5 linked regions of the Homo sapiens genome follow. The protein of the gene in region 1 interacts with the protein of each later gene in a pairwise test. Each region holds a gene or a part of one and is shown on either strand. Other genes may lie near its edges. The genes, in order: PDGFRL, TBC1D2, ZNF510, FBP2 and MAPKAPK3.

Region 1 (3,515 bases):
ACATTCATTATTGTCTGAGAGCAATATAGCCAGATCTCTAAGAAGGTAAGGACAGAGACACAATGACGAGGATTCTCTAACCAAGAGCCTTTGACACTTTCGTGTCTTCGTTTATTTTTGAGAAAAAAAAAGAGTAAAAATTAGTACAGAAATATTTTAATGAAAAAAAGAATTCTAAAGTTCCTTATTGTTTATGAATGCACATAATGAATGCTTTGAAGCATTTAGGATCTTGGCTGGCATGTTTGACATACAAAACCATTTCTGATCCTTAAAACACAGAAAGAGAAAAGTTTGAGGGCAAGAGAGAGAGATCTGGTGGTCAGAGGACTGATGGTTTTCAAACCTAGACAAGGTTTTAAAACCCTTTCTTTGTGGTGCTCAATGAAGGGAGAGGAAAGATAAAGAAGTAAAGATACAATTTAAGGAAGTGGTAAGTGGCATCGAGAATCATGAATCAGGGTCTATTAGGTTCCTAGGGCTGCCATAACAAAGTACCACGGAATGGGAGGCTTTAAAACCGCAGAAGTTTGTTTGCTCACAGTCCAGAGGCTTGTAGTCCAAAGTCAGTGTCAGCAGCACCACACAGCTTCTAAGATGCGGGTAGAATCCTTCCCTGCCTCCACTAGCTTCTGGTTGTGGTCAGCAACCCCTTGGCATTTTTTTTAGCTTGTGGCCACATCACTCCAATCTCTGCCTCTGTTGCCATGTGACCATCTTCTCCCCGTGTCTGTCTTTACATGGCATTTTCATACGTGTGTGTGTGTGTGTCTCCTCATAAGAACATCAGTCCTATTGGAGGAGAGCCTACCCTAATGACCTCATGCTAACTTGATTACATTTGCAAAGACTCCATTCCTCAATGAGGTTACATTCACAGATACCTGGGAGTTAGGACTTCAGCATATCTTTTTAGGGGACACAATTCAACCAGTAAGACAGGGTGAGACATGGAGAGGACTGAGGCGGGGTGTGAGGATGCCGTTTGAATGGATAGCCATAAGCCTGCCTGAAACAAGGAAGCAAACCCCGGAGGTAGCTGACAGCAAAGCTGTGCACTCCAGGGGCACCACAAAGGCAATAGCTTCAAGATGGGCTTGTACCGGTTGCCAGTGTGGCTGTGGCTGTGATGCGTGGGACGGGAGCTGGCCAAGCCTTGTAGGGCATGGGAAGATTTAGGGCTGGCTTCTAGATGAGATGAAAGTCACTGGAGGCTTCTGAACGAAGAAGTACCCATAATTTGATTTATGTTTTCAAAGGTAGGTGCTATGGTTTGCCCCCACCACATCTTATGTTGAATTTTGATCCCCCATGTGGTGGTGGTGGTGGGAGGTAGGGCCTCATGGGAGGTGTTTGGGCCTTGGGGGTAGATCCTTCATGAAGAGATTAATGCCTTCCCTTGGGGATGTGTGGATTCTGTATTATTTCCAGCAAGAACTGCTTGTTAAAGAGAGTCTGGTCCCTCCTCCTCCCACCGCACCATGTGATCTCTGCACTGCTAGTTATCGTTGCCCTCTGCCCTGAGTGGAAGCAGTCTGAGGCCTTCATTGGAAGCAGATGTTGGTTCCATGCTTCTTGTACAGCCTGCAGAACGATGAGCCAAATAAACCTCTTTTCTTTATAAACAACCCAGCCCTACGTATTCCTCTATAGCAATGCGAAATGAACTAACACAGAAAATTGGTACCAAGGAGTGGGATATTGCTATAAAGATACCTGAAAGTGTGGAAGCAGCTTTGGAACTGGGTACTGGGCAGAGAATCGGAAGAGTTTGGAGGGCTCAGAAGAAAACAGCAAGAGGAGGGAAAGTTTGGAATTTCTTAGAGATTGGTTATATAGTTGTGACTAAACTGTTGATAGAAATATAGACAGTAAAGTTCATGCTGACAAGGTCTGAAATGGAAACAGATAACTTATTGGGAGCTGGAGAAAAGTCACCCTTGTTAGGCCTTAGCAAAGAACTTGGCTGCATTGTGTCCATGCCCTAGGGATTTTGGAAGGCCACACTTAAGAGTGATGTCCTAGGGTATCCTAAAGAAGAAATTTTTAATCAGCAAAGTGCTCAAGTAGTGGTGGGTGTGGCTGGGTTTAAAAGCTTAGGATCAGCCGGGCAGGGTGGCTCACGCCTGTAATCCCAGCACTTTGGGAGGCAGGCGGATCATGAGGTCAGGAGATCGAGACCAGCCTGGGCAACATGGTGAAACCCTGTCTCTATTACAATACAAGAAGTTAGCCTGATGTCGTGGTGCGCACCTGTAGTCCCAGCTACTTGGGAGGCTGAGGCAGGGGAGTCGCTTGAACTCGGGAAGAGGAGATTGCAGTGAGCTGAGATCAGGCCACTGTACTGCAGCCTGGTGACAGAGTGAGACTCTGTCTCAAAAAAAAAAAAAAAAAAAACTTAGGCTCAAGATCAATTACAGCAGCAAAGGAATGACCTAAAGGTAGAATTTATTATGAAAAGGGAAGCAGAGAGTAAAAGTTTGGAAAATCTGAAGCCTGGCCATGTGGCAGAGAATGAAAGAGCATTTTGGGAAAAGAATCCAAGGGCACAGTTGAGAGACTGCTTGAATCATGCTAGTAGCTAAGAAAATAAGAGAAAGGCCTTATAGCCATTTTGGAAATCTTTGAGGAGCCCCTCCCATCCCAGGCCCAGAGACTCAGGAGAATAGAATGGTTTTGGGGGGCAGGCCCTGCTGCTCTTCTGCCGTGCACCACCTCGGGATGCTACTGCCCCTATCTCAGGTGCACCAGCTCTAGCCTTCACTTAAAAGGTCCCAGGTGTGGTTCCAGATGGGCGAATAAGAGCAGAAGAGGCCAATAAGCAGAACAGAGAGGTTGCTCCAGAGGGCACAAGTTATAAATAAACCTTGGAGGCTTCCACATGTTGTCAAGTCTGCATATTCCCAGAATGCAAGAGTGATGGAGGCTTAGCTTCCACCTAGATTTCAGAGGATGTATCAGAAAGCCTGAGTGTGCGAGCAGAAGCCTGCTACAGGGGCAGAACTAACACAGAGAGTCCCTACCAGGGCACTGCCTAGGGGAGCCATGGGAACAGGGCTCATGTGGGGATCCCAGAATTAGAGAGCCACCAGCAGTATGCACCCTCACCTTGGAAAACAAACAGACATTCAACTCCAACCTGTCAGATCAGCCATGTGGGCTTCACCCAGCCAAGTTAGAGGGGTGGGGAGGGCGAAGGCTTGTTTTTGATTTTCCAGGCTCACAGCTGTAAGGAACTTGCCTCAAGCTCAGATGAGACTTTGGACTTTTGAGTTGATGCTGGAACAAGTTAAGATTTCGGGGACTATTGGGAAAGGATGCTTGTAATTTGCAGTATTTGAAAGACATGAGTTTTGGGGGGCCAGAGGTGCAATGCTATGATTTGGATATTTGACCTCCTCCTAACCTCATGTTGAAATTTGATCACCAGTGTTGGTGGTGGGGCCTAATGGGAGGTGTTTGAGTCGTGGGGGTGGACCCCTCATGAATGGCTTGTTGCCCTCCTGGAGGTAATA
Region 2 (3,515 bases), on another chromosome or scaffold:
ATGACCACGTATCAAAATCTGAGATGAACCAAACAACTCGATTGAGAAATATTAAAAGTACCACTTGGGCCGGGCATGGTGGCTCACACCTATAACCCCAACACTTTGGGAGGCCAAGGTGGGAGGATCTCTTGAGCCCAAGAGTTCAAGACCACCCCGAACAACATAGGGAGACCCTGTCTCTACAGAAAATAAAATAATTAGCTGGGCAATGTGGTGCATGCCTGTAGTCCCAGCTACAAGGGAGACTGAGGCAAGAGAATCTCTTGAGCCCAGGAGGTTGAGGCTGCGGTGGGCCGTGATTGCGCCACTGCACTCCAGCCTGGGCAACAGAGTGAGACCCTGTCTCAAAAAAAAAAAAAAAAAAAAGAAAAGAAAAAAAAACACTTCAAAAAGCTTAATTTCATCAACCCCTCTATTTTTCTTTTCTTTTCTTTTCTTTTTTTTTTTTTTGAGATGGAGTCTCGCTCTGTCGCCCAGGCTAGAGTGCAGTGGTGCGATCTCAGCTCACTGCCAGCTCCGCCTCCCGGGTTCACACCATTCTGCCTCAGCCTCCTGAGTAGCTGGGACTACAGGCACCCGCCACCACGCCTGGCTAATTTTTTTGTATTTTTAGTAGAGACGGGGTTTCACCATGTTAGCCAGGATGGTCTCGATCTCCTGACCTCGTGATCCGACCGCCTTGGCCTCCCAAAGTGCTGGGATTACAGGCGTGAGCCACCACGCCCGGCCCAACCTATTTTTAAGAATTGGTCCTAAGACATTGCTTATAATCCAGACTTTAGGTTTCTTGAATTCATGACATTCTCACTCCTCATCTTACAAGTCCTACTGAGGCTCCCTCCCTCTGCCCTGGTTCCGTTCTTTTAAGCCTATTTTATTCTGGTACAAGAATTCTGGGGGTGGGAGGAGAGCCTCCTGGGCTGGTGTCTCAGTCTTAGATTCTGGGAGCCAAATGCGGGAAGGAGACAGCTAGATGTAATGAAATAAGCTTCAGAGTCAACTAACTCCCCAAATTGAGGGAAAGACACCCACTGGTCCTGCTCCTAGGGCAAGTCTGAACAATGATGTCTGTTGGTTATTTCCCTGGGCAGTCATCCAAGGTAACCTCCAAATCTCAGCTGAAGCAGAAAATGGCCTAGGCCCCCAGTTTTCCTGGAACCACAGGAATGTTAATCTCTCTCCACTGAGCCCTGAGAAGCTGACTTCTTCATTCTGGACGTTCCAAACATTCCCTTTTGGTTTGCAATCACTGTGCTGTCCTCACCCCAACTTCCTGCCACACCCCAGGGCTCCCACAGCTCCATGGTAGCTCTTTCCTTCCTCCAGGTCTTTACTGGGGCTGTAGCTTGGCCACATCTGGAGGGCCATCCCCACCCTCATCTCCCACCTGCTGCTCGACCATCTCTGGCCCTTCTCATTCTTCACAGTTTCTTTTAAATGCTCTGGACTGGTATTCCCCACAACCTCCACCCCAGACAGAAGTCATTGCCTTTCCCACAAACACCCTTGTTCCCCTGACTTGCAGTAGATCATTCCACTGTGGTGGGTCATGTTCATTCCCACCAGCCTTTGCAGTCCTTGGAGGTGGGAACTCTCACCACTCCCTCTCTGGGCCACGGCACCTGGCTCAGGGCCTGGCCTGGCACCGAGTGGTGCTTGGTAAAGGTTGGATGGATGGATGGGCATGTGGAAGGAAAAGAGAGAACCAGAGAAAGGATGGTCACTAGTCCTAAGGTTTCAGAAGATGCAGGCTAATGTGGTCTTGTCATTAGCTTCTCCAAAAAAGTCATGGTTTTTGGCAGTTTTCCTCCAATATAGAATTGTTCTTAGCAAATAAGGCTATCCAGCCAATCCACTCATTTTAATACTTTGGTGTGGTATAGTTGACATGTCTCTAGGAAACCATGTTTTTCCAAATGAGAAGCACAGAGCAGGGCAGTGTTGCCTGAAAGTCATACCTACCTGGTATTAGTTCCACGTGGACCTGGCTGCTGATGTCCTGATCCTGGCCCAGAACAAATTCACATCCCTGCTTTGGGACAGATAGGCCTGAGTCCAGGCGTGGCCCTCCCTGGGGAAATTACAGGCTTAAAGGCACAGGGAGCTGAGCAGACCTTGAGTTCCTGTGTGAATTAGTTGCCCCTGCTGAGGAATAAATCAAGCTCTATTGTTTCTGAACTTTCTAGAGTTCCTTCCACCAGCTTTGCAGGCATCGGCTGGTGGGCTGAAGGTAACTAGGCACAAATGGCTTGAATGAGGTCCTCTGTGTGTGGCTTTACATGGGGATTGCCAGTGTATTTCCTCTTTAACCCTGACTCAACTTGATTGGTAGTGACTGGCTGCTATATTGAGAATGATTCTGAGGCCTCAACTAGGGTAGGCTGTGCAGGAAGAAGTATGGGAGATTAATTAGTGATGTCTGCCACAGGGATGAGAGGGAAGAGTAATGCCACATAGCTGCCACCCCTGGTTTTCTTAGTTACTGAGCACAGGCTTTGGAATCTAGCCAATTGAGATTGAATTCCATTCTACTCTCTGCTGGGCCTCAGTTTGTTCATCCCTGAAATGGATGTGTATATGTCAGGGTATGGGTTCAGCTGCTGTGACAAAAACATCTCCACTGGGTGTGGTGACTCATACCTGTAATCCCAGCACTTTGGAAGGCCAAGGTGGGCAGATCATTTGAGTCCAGGAGTTTGAGACCAGCCCGGCAACATGGCAAAACCCCTTCTCTACAAAAAAATACAAATATTAGCCTGGTGTGTTGGCATGTTCCTGTGGTCCCAGCTACTTGAGAGGCTAAGGTGGGAGGATCAGCTGAGCCCAGGAGATTGAGGCTACAGTGAGCCATGTCTGTGCCACTGCACTCCAGGCTGGGTAACAGAGGGAGACGCTATCTCAAAAAAAAAAAGTTTCAAAGCACTGTGGCCCAAAACGAGTGAGAGGTTTCTCATTCACATTAAAGAACCCAGAGGTAGGTGAGCAACTCTGAGCTGGGGGGCAGCCCTTTCTCAACATGTACCTTCTGCTGTGGGTCTGAGGCGGCCACTCTAGTTCCTGCCACTTCCCAGCCAGAAGCAAAGAGAACTGGACCAGAGGAGCGTGTATCTAGTGGTTTTAAAGGTAGGACCCAGAAGCTGCCCATCTCACTTTTCATTTCCCATTTAGGCAGAATAGTTACTTGGCTACACCTCACCATGGCTTGGCTGGGAGATGCAGTTTTAAGCTGGGGAACCATGTGCCCAGCTAACAGTCACTTGAACAGAGAAGGAGAAAGTGAGTGTCAGGATGAGATGCCGCAGGGATGCTGCTGGGCACCTCTCACGGTTGTTAGGAGAACTACTGATAACATATACCCCACTGTGGCGCCCAGCAGGCCCTCCCTGAGCTCACAAGATTCTTCCCTCTCCCTGCCCAGGAGCTAGTGAAGATCCTGCACAAGGCACTGGAGGCCGCCCAGCAGGAGAAGCGGGCGTCCAGCGCATACCTGGCGGCGGCTGAGGACAAGGACC
Region 3 (4,280 bases), on another chromosome or scaffold:
CTTAGAAAACATAGATGATTAGAATTTTTAAAAACAAATGTTAGTCTTTTCCTCCAGTATCTATTAAAGTGTTTTTCAGTGTCAACAGTAAAATTTTATACCTTGATTCATATATACTGCACTAGTTTACTGTTGCCATTAATCTTTTTTCTTGCTAATCAAAACTTATCATTGCCATATAAAATAACCTGTTAGAAAGTATCAACCGTGTGTGTGTGAGTGTATGTGTGTTACTAAAAAGAGTGTCATAAAATACTGTGCTGAGAGGTTCCTAATTTGGTTCCTGATTTCAGAAGCATACCACATAAGATTTAAGCAAGCTCATCTCTAGGAGATGCATAATTTGTGGATAACGGTTTTCTTAGTTGGGATTGTGTGTACTTCAGGTATTATGTAATGCTGAACAGCTTACTTGCTTTTTCTTTTTTTCCCCCCAGAGATAAACTGAGGATCACAAATATTATTCTTTTATGTTAATAATGGTTTCCATTTTCTAGTATTTGTTACATTTTACGGCTTTATTCACAAAGCTGTTTATGTATTTTTGTGGCAGCTCTAAGTTAAAAGGCACACTTGTAACATTACAGTCCCAATTTTCCCTTTATCAACTTTATATTATAAAATTTTCCAACACATAGTCAATAAGCATGTCCATATTCTAGAAGTAGATATTCTTAACATTTTGCCATACTTCCCATTTCTAATTATTTTTTAAAAAGAACTTACAAACGGGCCGGGAGTGGTAGCTCACGCCTGTATACCCAGCACTTTGGGAGGCCAAGGCAGGCGGATCACTTGAGGTGAGGAGTTCGAGACCAGCCTGGCCAACATGGTGAAACCCCGTCTCTACTAAAAATACAAAAATTAGCTGGGCGTAGTGGCGGGCGCCTGTAGTCCCAGCTACTTGGGAGGCTGAGGCAGGAGAATCGCTTGAACCCGGGAGGCGGAGGTTGCAGTTAGCCGAGATCGCGCCACTGCACTCCAGCCTGGGCGACAGAGTAAGACTCCGTCTCAAAAAAAAAAAAAAAAACCAAAAAACCCAAAAACTTACAAACATAATACAATCCTAAATACTTACATAGACATCTCTTTATGAATAAGCAAGATTACCTACATAATCCCAATGCTGCCACAATTAATTAATAATTCTAATTTCCAGTCCGTATACAAATTTTCCCAATTGTTTTCAAACGTCTTCCGCGGCTCTTGCTTTCTGTAACCACACGCTGCATTTGCTGTTATGTCATCAAGTCTAACCCACAACCTCTGGGGCTCTGACAGAACCCGGGCTCCAGTTATCAGGACGGTCCATGTTATTACGCCATAAATCTTGGGGGAAAAACAAACAAAAAAACACTGACAGCTGGCGCCGTACTGCATGTGAAACGTAGTCTTGCATGTTATGGGTTACCGCGCAGCATGCTGGGAACGGATATGCGCGTTTTCGTCTGCGCATGTGCAGTCAACCCCACTTTCCGGCTTCTCCCTGTTAGTGTTTGCTGGTGCAGAGGGTTCGCAGCTCAGGTGAGAGCGCCGGGCCTCCACGCGGATTGCGGACCTGCAGGGAGGGATGTGCTAGTGTCCAGGGGGCGGGAACGCGACGTCCCGGGAACTCCCCCAAAGCAGGCCGTCGCTCCCTGTGCCTCGGCCGGCCCGGGACCTCAGCCTGAGAAGGGCCGGTGGGGGCGGGCTCCGGGGGCGTTAGGTGGGGCTGAGTCCTAGTTGGAAGATGCTCGGTGCGGGCCGAGGTATGGGCGCCAGAATGCAGCCAGGCGTCGGAAAACGCGGTGCTGGCTTCAGGAGGGGAATGCGCGTTTATTGTATTGACCATGAACCTGCCACAAAGCGCGTACAGCCCGTGGGTCTGCGGTGAGAGGCCGAGCCTAGGAGCTAGAAGGACCTCGTGAATTTTGGCTCTGTCACTTGAGCGTTTGAAAATGAGGATATTAGTAAAAACTGCTTTGTGTCGTTCAGAGGTAAGCCATCCCCTGTAAAGCATTTAGCTAAGCGCTAGTTACTAAGCAGCATGTAAATGTTGATTCCCGTTATATTTGGAAGACACTTTGTTCTTTTCATGTAGTATTTCGTTTAATTCTCACAACCACCCTATTTATATCATTAAAAATGAAGAAGGAGGAGTGAAAAGATAGAGCCAAGCTCACAAAGGATGAGAGAGCTAGGATGTCAATACATAAACACTTTACTCCCCGAATCAGGCTGTTTGTAATGGCCTACCTACCTAACCCAGCATTGCAGCCTTCACAGCACTGAGTGATTGTCCCCAAAACCCCAGGACAATGATTGTGAAGTCAGTGTGGACAGAATCTTACTATGTGGCAAGTGTATTTGTTGTGGGGTTTCTGGGATGTCTCCAGAGCCTCTGGGTTAGACTGAGGCCCCTGCCACCTCCTGTGCTGTCCCTCCTGTCTCTGTCTTTAGAAGTCAGTCTGATATTCTAGGGCAGTGAAGATGAGTCACATACGTAATTTTAAATGTTAAACTAGTAGCTACATGAAAATCTAAAACATGAAATTAATTTTAAGAACATACTGTGGTTTTCTCAGTGTATCCAAAATGTTATTTCAACATGTGGTCCTAGCCACATTTCCAGTGCTCAGTAGTTGATGTGATTGGAGGCTGTAGTCATGGATAGCAGGGTTCTAATTAATGCCAAGAGAATCAGGTTTAAGGCCTTAGGTCACTTCTTCACCAGGAGGATTTTGCTCCCTAGGGAACTTTGGAAATGTTGGAGACTTTTTTGGTGGGGGGAGAGGGGACTGAGTTTCTCTCTGTCGCCCAGGCTGGAGGGCAGTGGTGTGATCTTGGCTCACTGCAACCTCCACCTCCCAGGTTCAACTGATTCTCCTGCCCCAGCCTCCCAGCTTGTAATCTCAGCTGGAATTACAAGCATGCATGGCCATGCCCAGCTAATTTTTTGTATTTTTAGTAGAGGTGGGGTTTCACCATATTGGCCAGGCTTATCTTGAACTCCTGACCTCAGGTGATCCACCTGCCTTGGCCTCCCACAGTCCTGGGATTACAGGCGTGAGCCACCACGCCCGGCCTGGAGACGTTTCTGATTGTCACAACAGGGAGAAGGGGTGTCCTAGTGTCTAGTGCATGTTTAGAAATGCTCTTAAACATCCTGCAATGCACAGGACCACTCCTTATGTCAGAGGATTATCCAGCCCAAAATGGAAGTTGTGCTGACGTGAAGAACACTGTTTTCCATGAAAGTTTCAACTAAAATAAATTTGTTACCCAGGCATCAGCCCCAGCTTCTCTGGAGCAAAGCAGCTCTTTATGTTGCAGGAAGGAGGGAGCCCCAGGAACAGGAGTCCCACCGAAGAACTGCTCTCTGACAGAACAGAGACCTCCTCACCAGGGCTTCCAAACAGATGCAGAAGAACCCAGAAAGGAGCAGGTCTTGATTTGCCCAACCAGCGGCACTTCTTCATCCCCTTGCCCAGAGAGCACCAGACTTGGTGATGTCGCCACATCCAGAAGCCATCACAGATTGTGTGACACTGAACACTGTGGGCCAACTTGCAGAAGGTGGTAAGCTGGGGTTGAGAGGCGTGGGTGACTGTCAGACTGCACAGGAAAAGCCACATTACTGGAGGGCTTTTCTCCATGGTCTCCAAGGAAGGCATAACCAGCCAGGGCTGAGGAAATTGTCTCTAATCCTCCTCATAGAGCCCCCATTTTCTTCATTCTTGCCTCACTCTTTCCAGATTCTGAGTCACTCTCACACAACATCCATCACATGTAGCATCTAGAAATTTACTAAGGTTGCCTCTATCCTGAACCTGTAGAATCACAAAAATGATAATACAGGAAAGGATTTCTATTTCTGACTCTTAAAACCTTAAAAAGTATTGAACCTAGGATGAACAGTTTGTCCATGGTCACTCAGGACAGAGCTTGGAGCAAAGCACAGTGCTGTTCACTCTGTCACAGGTGAGTCACCAGAAGTGTCTTATCGAAAGTCTTTTGAGAAACTATAAGTTAGAACAAAAATATTTTAAAATAGTCTTTCAGCATCTCCTTTTTTTCAGTTTTGTGTTTTCTATTGGTGTAAATAATATTAACAGAATATTAATGTTAATTCTGTTTAAGTTGTTAGTCAAAGAAGACATACATTTTAAATAAATCAATAGGAAAATAGTCTACAATCGCCTGATGAAAAACAGCAAGGGGCCAGGCCTGGTGGCTCACCCCTGCAATCCCAGCATTTTGGGAGGCCAAGGCGGGCAGATTGCTTGAGGTCAGGAGTTCGA
Region 4 (4,313 bases), on another chromosome or scaffold:
GAACAGCTGAATGAACACCAGCCACCACCTCCTAGTGCACTCCTGGTCTATGAGGAAATAAACCCCCACGTGTAAATTGCTCTAGTTGTTCTATTTCTTGCAGCTGAACACATTCTAATCGACATAACTGTCAGGGGAAAAGACCTTCAGAGAAATGTGCATGTTGTACTGTTTTGTGAAATGAGATTATGTATGATTGCACAATAGTTGTGAGCACATTGAAAGACTGGAAGGGCGGCTGGGCGTGATGGCTCACGCCTGTAATCCCAGCACTTTGGGAGGCCGAGGCGGGCGGATCACGAGGTCAGGAAATCGAGACCATCCTGGCTAACACGGTGAAACCCCGTCTCTACTAAAAATACAAAAAATTAGCCAAGCGTCGTGGCAGGCGCCTGTAGTCCCAGCTACTCGGGAGGCTGAGGCAGGAGAATAGCGTGAACCTGGAAGGCGGAGCTTGCAGTGAGCCGAGATCACGCCACTGCACTCCAGCCTGGGCGACAGAGTGAGACTCCATCTCAAAAAAAAAAAAAAAAAAAAAAAAAAAAACTGGAAGGGCAATAATAGGTAACAAAGTACTGAGCACCTACTATACTAGGTACATCTCATTGCAGCCACTCTATAAGATGGATGCTTCACGGTTATGCTCATTTAAGAGTGAGACAACTGAGGTTCCAAGGGGTTTAATAACTTTCTCAAATCATGCAACCAACAGATAGCTAGCTTGGGACTCACAGCCAGGTCTGGCTGGCCCTAGAGAAAGTGCTTCCACCACCATATGCACCCCACCAGTGCCTACTGGCTGCACAGACCGCCACCAGCCCTAGCAGCAGTGATTTCTGGAGAGTGGGATGGGAGAATGGGCTGGTGGTGAGGAGGTTTGTCTTTATCCACTTCTTTAGTGTTTCCTTTTTAACAAGCAATTTTTGTTACAAAAGTGGACATCCAGAGATATTGACAAAATAACACTGGTGCCAGGAACTGTGCTAGGAATATAATAGTTTTCTTCCGGATCTGGATCTCTACTGTGGATATCCACTGGTCATACATGCCTACTGGAAATAAAAAGCATTCTTTCCTAACTTATTCCAAACCCTGGCTAAAGGAATTCTGGGGTTGCCATTATGTTACTATGTGACCTACGTCCCAGATAAGGAACCTGCGAATCTGCCACCTCCGCCCTCGGGAGAGCCAGGCCCTGCAGTCACTATATGTGAAGAATCCTTTGGAGCCTGGAATAAGAGGGTTTTATGCATCATTTTTTAATCAACTGGATTTCTCACCTCCCACCTGTGCCTAAATGGTGGCTTCTTGGTATCTTGAAAGGGGGTGCTCAGCAGGAGAAAGCAGCTCCATGTTTCTGGGCAGCCCGTCCTATTTACAGACTGCTGCGGCTCCCTGGCAGCTGCCACAGTCCCCGAGGCCAGAGGGAGTTCCTTGAGGGCCCCAGCAGTTGTTTGAGTCATGTGTTTTGGGCCCTTTTCCTTAGAGATCCTGGCAGGGCCAGCACAGATTTCTTATCGGCTTCCACACTGCGGAGCTGCAGCCCTCAGAAGTAAGCAAGGTTTCCTGCCGGGAGAAAAGGATTTGAAGCATTCCAGCCAAAATGACGGACAGAAGCCCCTTCGAAACCGACATGCTCACCCTGACCCGCTACGTTATGGAAAAGGGGCGTCAGGCCAAAGGGACTGGGGAGCTCACCCAGCTGCTGAACTCAATGCTGACGGCCATCAAAGCCATCTCCTCGGCTGTGCGCAAGGCCGGTCTGGCCCACCTGTGAGTCCTGGGGAGCAGGCATGGGGCACAGAGCACCCCAGGCCCAGGCAGGGGTGTGGGAGCTGCAGGTGCTTTGGCAAGAAACTGGGTCCAAAGCTTATTGGCCCTGTGTGCCCTAGATGGAAGCTGCATTTCAAGTTCCTATCATGTGTGCTTTGATAAAGGGGCCTTTGACTTGTTTTGAGAAAGGAACGAAAACATGCTATGAAGAAATACACATATAATTTTTCCAGTTATTATAATGATACCAAGTGCAGTGGCTTGTTGCATTAAAATATGTATTGTGTTATCATGACTTGTACTTGCACAGAGAGAGTCTCACTGGAACAAAGAAGTAGAGGGGTGACGTGAAATATCTCTTTATGCCTCTTGCAGACATGAGTGTTTTATTGTAATAAGCTTTGCAAATATGTTAGGAGCTGGAAATTATGTACGACATAGGAAGCTTGGTAGAGCCCCTTCCTGCATCTGCTCTCTCATCATCTAAAGGAGTGTTTTGCTGGCTACGTGTTTTATTTCTTCTCTGTGACTCTTTCTTTATCTTCACCTCCACTTGGTGTGCAGGAAGCCGGGAGGTGCTAGTCCTGGGAGGGGAGCGCAGAGGTTTCTTCCACAGGGTTCTCTTTGGTGCTTTATCCGAGCATAGATGAGGCCAGGTTCACATTACACTGCTGATGGTCACAGCCCAGTGTCCAGTTTAAGTCTGTAATAAAAAGAATCCGGTGGCCAGGCACGGTGGCTCCTGTCTGTAATCCTGGCACTTTGGGAGGCCAAGGTGGGTGGATCATGAGGTCAAGAGATCAAGACCATCCTGGCCAACATGTTGAAACCCTGTCTCTACTAAAAATACAAAAATTAGTTGGGTGTGGTGGCGGGCGCCTGTAGTCCCGGCTACTCGGGAGGCTGAGGCAGGAGAATCGCTTGAACCTGGGAGATGGAGGTTGCGGTGAGTCGAGATCGTACCACTGCACTCCAGCCTGGGTGACAGGACGAGATTCCATCTCAAAACATACAAACAAACAAACAAAACCCCAGCTTTCTTTGGGCTTCCCTTGTAGTAATTCCAGGGGAGGTCCTCTCAGGAGCTGAAGGAACACATATTTTGGGGATGAAAGAGACTCAAAATGAGGAGCTAACAAAGTCCAATCATTTAAAATATTTACTCTGAGCAATTAAGTGCTTTTAACACAAAAAGTGATAGCATTAGATTACAAGATGTAATTATCATTTGATCACCACAGACTGTATTTATTTAGGGGTGGTGACCCAGTAGCAGGACCCAGGTTAACGGTGCATTATCCTTGCTTTTTTCCTGTGGGTGGATGCTTCAGCTCTGTTTTTACCTCATTTGGCAATAACAGCCACGCTCTGCATTTAATCGCCTTCCAGAATGTGAGGGCAGGCGGTGCCCTGTTCTGCTCCTGTGGGTGACAGCCCTGCTGAGTGACGGTAGACAGGGACTTTGCCTCTCCCTGTGCGGACCCTGCTATCCTCAATGCGGTTGCCTGAGTCCATCTCAGGGTGATTCATCCACATAAATTGGGCTCCCCCTCTGTGCAGGGCTCTTGGCTAGGCAGTGGCTGCCATGGTAGGGGTCTTGCTTATCTGCTGCAAAACTCTGACTTTATGGCGGTTGAGCAAGGAGACAAAGTGGCCCTAGGAACTGGATAATTGAGGTGCTTATTAATTTGGCATTTCCTACCGTGTGATAATGGGCGTGATTTACTCTTGCTAGGACCTTAGATTCCCTTTGTGAAATGGAGAGTATAGTAGCATCCCTAACTCTTAGGGTTGTTGCAGAGTTAGCGAGCGCATGTGATGACGATTTCAACTGTGCCGGCCCCGTAAGACACGCACAGTGCCTGTCACTACCGCGGTTCCAAGCCCAGACCAGATTTGCCTGTGCCTGAGCCGTCAATGACCACTGGCGGCATTTGAGGAGCCTTTCAGCCCCCCACTGCACTGTGGGAGCCACTTTCTGGGCTGGCCAAGGCTGGAGCCCACTCCCTCAGCTTTCAGGGAGGTGTGGAGGGAGAGGTGCGAGCGGGAACTGGGGCTGCGTGCGGCGCTTGCGGGCCAGCTGGAGTTCCGGGTGGGCGTGGGCTTGGCGGGCCCGCACTCCGAGCAGCCAGCCAGCCCTGCTGGCCCCCGGCAATGGGGGACTTAGCACCCGGGCCAGTGGCTGCGGAGGGTGTACTGAGTCCCCCAGCAGTGCTGGCCCACTGGCGCTGCGCTCGATTTCTCGCTGGGCCTTAGGTGCCTTCCCGCGGGGCAGGGCTCGGGACCTGCAGCCCGCCATGCCTGAGCCTCCCATCCACTCCATGGGCTCCTGTGCGGCCCGAGCCTCCCCGACGAGCGCCACCCCCCGCTCCACAGCGCTCAGTCCCATCGACCACCCAAGGGCTGAGGAATGCGCGCGCACGGCGCAGGACTGGCAGGCAGCTCCACCTGCAGCCCCGGTGCGGGATCCACTAGGTGAAGCCAGCTGGGCTCCTGAGTCTGGTGGGGACGTGGAGAGTCTTTATATCTAGCTCAGGGAT
Region 5 (3,515 bases), on another chromosome or scaffold:
AAAAGAAAAGAAAAAGAAAAAAAGGTGCTGGGAGGACTTTCCAGAGAGAGAAAGAGAGAGAGAGAGAGAGAGAGAGAGAGAGATGGAGACAGAGAGAGAGAGAGATTGATCGATCTGAATTGAGCCCTGAAGTTTCCCCAAAAAGAGGGAGTTGACCCAACAGAGAGGATGAGGCAAGAATGCACATGACAGGGACCAGCACAGACCTAGACACAGAGGCCTGGGGGAGTAAGGCCTGTTTGGGAACAACATATATATTTTTCTGGCCAGAACAAAGTGGTTTTGGCCCAGAGGTGGCAGGAAGTGAGGTGGGAAAGGAAGGCAAGCCCTGCGTGCTGGGGGAGGACATTTATCTGGAAGATGTGAGGAAGTGTCTGTGGCCACAGGTGGATTAGAGTCATAAGGGGAGAGGCAGGGCTGAGGACCCTAATGAAAGCATTCCAGCTGTGAGCTTGGACTTTTAAGAGAGAAGAGGAGGACTCTGATGTGGGAGTGAGATGCCACAAGGCAGGCAGTGAGGAGGGAGTGTGGGAGCCAGCCTGGGAGGCCTGACAGGAGATGGTCAGGTCAGACTGGGGAGGAGAGAACCAGGCAGGGGGAGGGGGAGGAGGCAAAGAAGGAACCCGGTGCAGGGAGGGAGGATGGTACCTCTTGGCTCCTGTGGCTGAGGATTGGGGTACCCCTAGCTAGGGCCGCCACAGGACATGGTGGAGGCAAGTGGGGGGCACTGAGCTTTCTGGTCCCAGTGCTGAGAAAGAAGCTGGTGATTGGGAATTGTGCGGGCACTAACCTGAGGGGTGTTCTGGAAGGCAAGGGCAGCATGAGCAAGGATCCATGGTGTCCAGGCAGGAGTGTCTGCCCACAGCAGCCTTGACGCACACCCCCAGCCTGCTCTGGGTAATGGAGCAGGGGCACAGAGCTGCTAGAGGGCTTGTCCAGCCCCTGGCTCTCTGTATTCCTTGCACTGCCTGTATTCCCAGGCTAGGGTTGAGGGGAGCAGCTCCAGAAAAGGAGGGACAGCCAAGGGGCAGCAGGCTCGAGAAACCACTGCCTGCCTCTCCCCTCTCTGGGACACTGCCCTGACCCAGTTTGTCTTTACCTAGAGAGCGTGCATGGTCACAGAGCCTGCCCCTAACAGTGCCCTGTGTAAAGTGGCCTGGCTCTCCCCATCCTGCAGAGGAGGAAATTAAGGCTGGGGCAGCCCAGGGTCCTATGGCTGCTGAGCAGTGCTGATCCGAGCCCCGGTCTTGAGCATCAGCCCTGGTCCCCAGCCCTCCTCCATTAGGAAACACAGTGTCACAGATGGTCCTTGAGTGAGCAACCCTTTTTGGGGGTGGCTTGTCCCTGCTGTCCCCATTCTGGGCCATCTCCTCATGCATGCTGACTTCTTCTTCTCCCCCTACAGCAGGGCCACTGTGAGGCCTTGTTCATTTCTGGTGCTGGTTGGCAGCCACAGTCCAGGGCTGAGTTAACCCGAGCAAGGATCCTGATGCCCGCCCACTGGATGCTTGCCTTGGCTGGGATGCACCCTGTGGGGATGACTCTGCTATTATACCATTTTACAGAGTTGTGGGCTGCAGCTTGGAGCTGTGAATGTATGCCTGAGGTCACACCGAGTCATTGGAGGAATTCAATCCCAAACCCACATCTCACTCCACTCAGCTGTCATCTCCCTCAACTAGGGTCCTCCCTTCCCCCAGTCTCTACCTCTGGGTCCTTACCGGTGATCTGTAAGCATGGAATGAGGGTGGAGGCTGGGCAGCTAGGTCACCTTGAGATGGCCCCACCTCTCTCACAGTGCGATGACATTGTCGCCCTGGTACTGCATAGCAGCTCCCAGGAAGGCTATAAAGTTACCTTGGGAGCTGGGTACTGACTGGGTGGTCATGACCAAGCAACTCATTTTAGAAGCACTTTTCTTGGTAGTGAGAGTTTTGTTCTCATGCCCACTCCTGGAGAATCTGAAGTCTTAATTACTTTTACCCCTACAGGAGTGTGGCCTTGTCTCCCTCCACTCTGGGCCAGTTTCTTTGTGGGAGATAGATTGACAGACACAGGCCTCAACCTCTCCTGCAGGAAGTCTTCCTTCTCACTCCAGCACTCTCCTGATCATGCTGAGTCCTGTAGGGCAGATTTGCGTGTTAGTGCACCCTCTCCCCTCCCCAGCCTTTCCCCAGCACCTTCTGCTTCTACACTTACATTTCTCATAGATGCCCAGGGTGAGAATCACAAGGGAGGCACCAAGGGCCTACTATGTACCAGGTGCTATCCTGTACAATTTACATGTACAATTTCCAACCCTAGCCTAGGAAATGGAACAGCTGTGTCATCCTTATGGTAAAAATGAGGCTCAAGGGATGTGTGGCCCCTGGCTTGGGGTCCCATGGCTGCTGTGTGATTAGAGTGGGGTTATAAAACCCACTCAATTTCCATCTGAGAAGGGAAGCAAGGGCTTCTTTGGCCTCTGAGCCCCTCGAAGCAGTCAGCCACCTCCTACGGACTCCTTGAACTACCTGCCAAGCTGCTTGAGCCCAGGACTGACCCTCAAGTCCAGAGGCTCACTGGACCACAAGTCAGAGAAACCTAGATTCAAATTCTCATTCTGCTCCTTATAAGCTGTGTGACCTGGGGCAGGTCACAGGCCTCAGAGCTTATATGTTTTTGTCTGCAAAATGATGGTAGAGGGCTCTGAGCCTGACACTTTCTATGTGCACCCACCTACAGCTCCTGTATGACAGCCCCAAGGCCCGGCAGGAGGTAGACCATCACTGGCAGGCTTCTGGCGGCCCCCATATTGTCTGCATCCTGGATGTGTATGAGAACATGCACCATGGCAAGCGCTGTCTCCTCATCATCATGGAATGGTATGCTGGCCTGCCCTGTCTCCACACCCCCTCGGCATCCCTGTGGCCCTCAGGCTCCCTGCCACGCTTCTAGGGGCTTTCTTTGTTTTTCAGGTAGCAGATCTGGGTGCCACTGTAGCCCCTGAGGGGCAATGGAGCAGGCAGCCGCAGGCCCTGCCTGTGGATCTATGGAGTTGGCCATAAGGACATTCCCTCAAGGGTGGGCAAGAAACCACAGGGGTTAATATGGCCTCCCTGAGTGTGATTTCTACTCTGTGAGGAGGACTGGAAGAGCTGTCAGAGAAGGCTCCCAATCCCTGAATATGGATGGATGGGGGATTTGGGGAAGAACAGGACCCACGCAGTTCCCTCAGCTTTCTCTCCTTTTGACCTGGGTATGTGCTCCCATGGTCCCACCAGGAACTGGGTGCTTGGGGCCTAGAACCAGGAGCCAGTGGCCTTTTCCACCCTGGGCTTCTTCCTGTAACACCATGGCTCAGCACCAGCCATCCTTGGACCGGTTAGCCAGTTCTTCAGATTTGGGGTTCAGATCCTGCCTCTGCTACCCACTAGCTATGTGACCGTGGGCAGCTCTTAACCTCTCTGAATCTCTGTAACTCAGATGTAAGATGTGGGAAAGATCTTAATGTAGCATTTACCCTGTGCTTGACT

What was found.
Region 2: the proteins of PDGFRL (region 1) and TBC1D2 interact in a two-hybrid assay, tested with the Homo sapiens proteins (one large-scale study listed by BioGRID and IntAct).
Region 3: the proteins of PDGFRL (region 1) and ZNF510 interact in a two-hybrid assay, tested with the Homo sapiens proteins (one large-scale study listed by BioGRID and IntAct).
Region 4: the proteins of PDGFRL (region 1) and FBP2 interact in a two-hybrid assay, tested with the Homo sapiens proteins (one large-scale study listed by BioGRID and IntAct).
Region 5: the proteins of PDGFRL (region 1) and MAPKAPK3 interact in a two-hybrid assay, tested with the Homo sapiens proteins (one large-scale study listed by IntAct).

Annotation. Positions count from the first base shown.
Region 1 is NC_000008.11:17,580,204-17,583,718, forward strand, and holds part of PDGFRL (platelet-derived growth factor receptor-like protein precursor), read left to right. Parts: intron 1-3,515.
Region 2 is NC_000009.12:98,221,135-98,224,649, reverse strand, and holds part of TBC1D2 (TBC1 domain family member 2A), read left to right. Parts: intron 1-3,421; coding exon 3,422-3,515. UniProt on the Homo sapiens protein: Acts as a GTPase-activating protein for RAB7A. Signal effector acting as a linker between RAC1 and RAB7A, leading to RAB7A inactivation and subsequent inhibition of cadherin degradation and reduced cell-cell adhesion.
Region 3 is NC_000009.12:96,775,278-96,779,557, reverse strand, and holds the start of ZNF510 (zinc finger protein 510), read left to right. Parts: upstream 1-1,470; 5' UTR 1,471-1,524; exon of another isoform or gene 1,525-1,976; intron 1,977-3,312; 5' UTR 3,313-3,488; coding exon 3,489-3,558; intron 3,559-4,280. UniProt on the Homo sapiens protein: May be involved in transcriptional regulation.
Region 4 is NC_000009.12:94,591,017-94,595,329, reverse strand, and holds the start of FBP2 (fructose-1,6-bisphosphatase isozyme 2), read left to right. Parts: upstream 1-1,505; 5' UTR 1,506-1,603; coding exon 1,604-1,773; intron 1,774-4,313.
Region 5 is NC_000003.12:50,637,642-50,641,156, forward strand, and holds part of MAPKAPK3 (MAP kinase-activated protein kinase 3), read left to right. Parts: intron 1-2,724; coding exon 2,725-2,864; intron 2,865-3,515. UniProt on the Homo sapiens protein: Stress-activated serine/threonine-protein kinase involved in cytokines production, endocytosis, cell migration, chromatin remodeling and transcriptional regulation.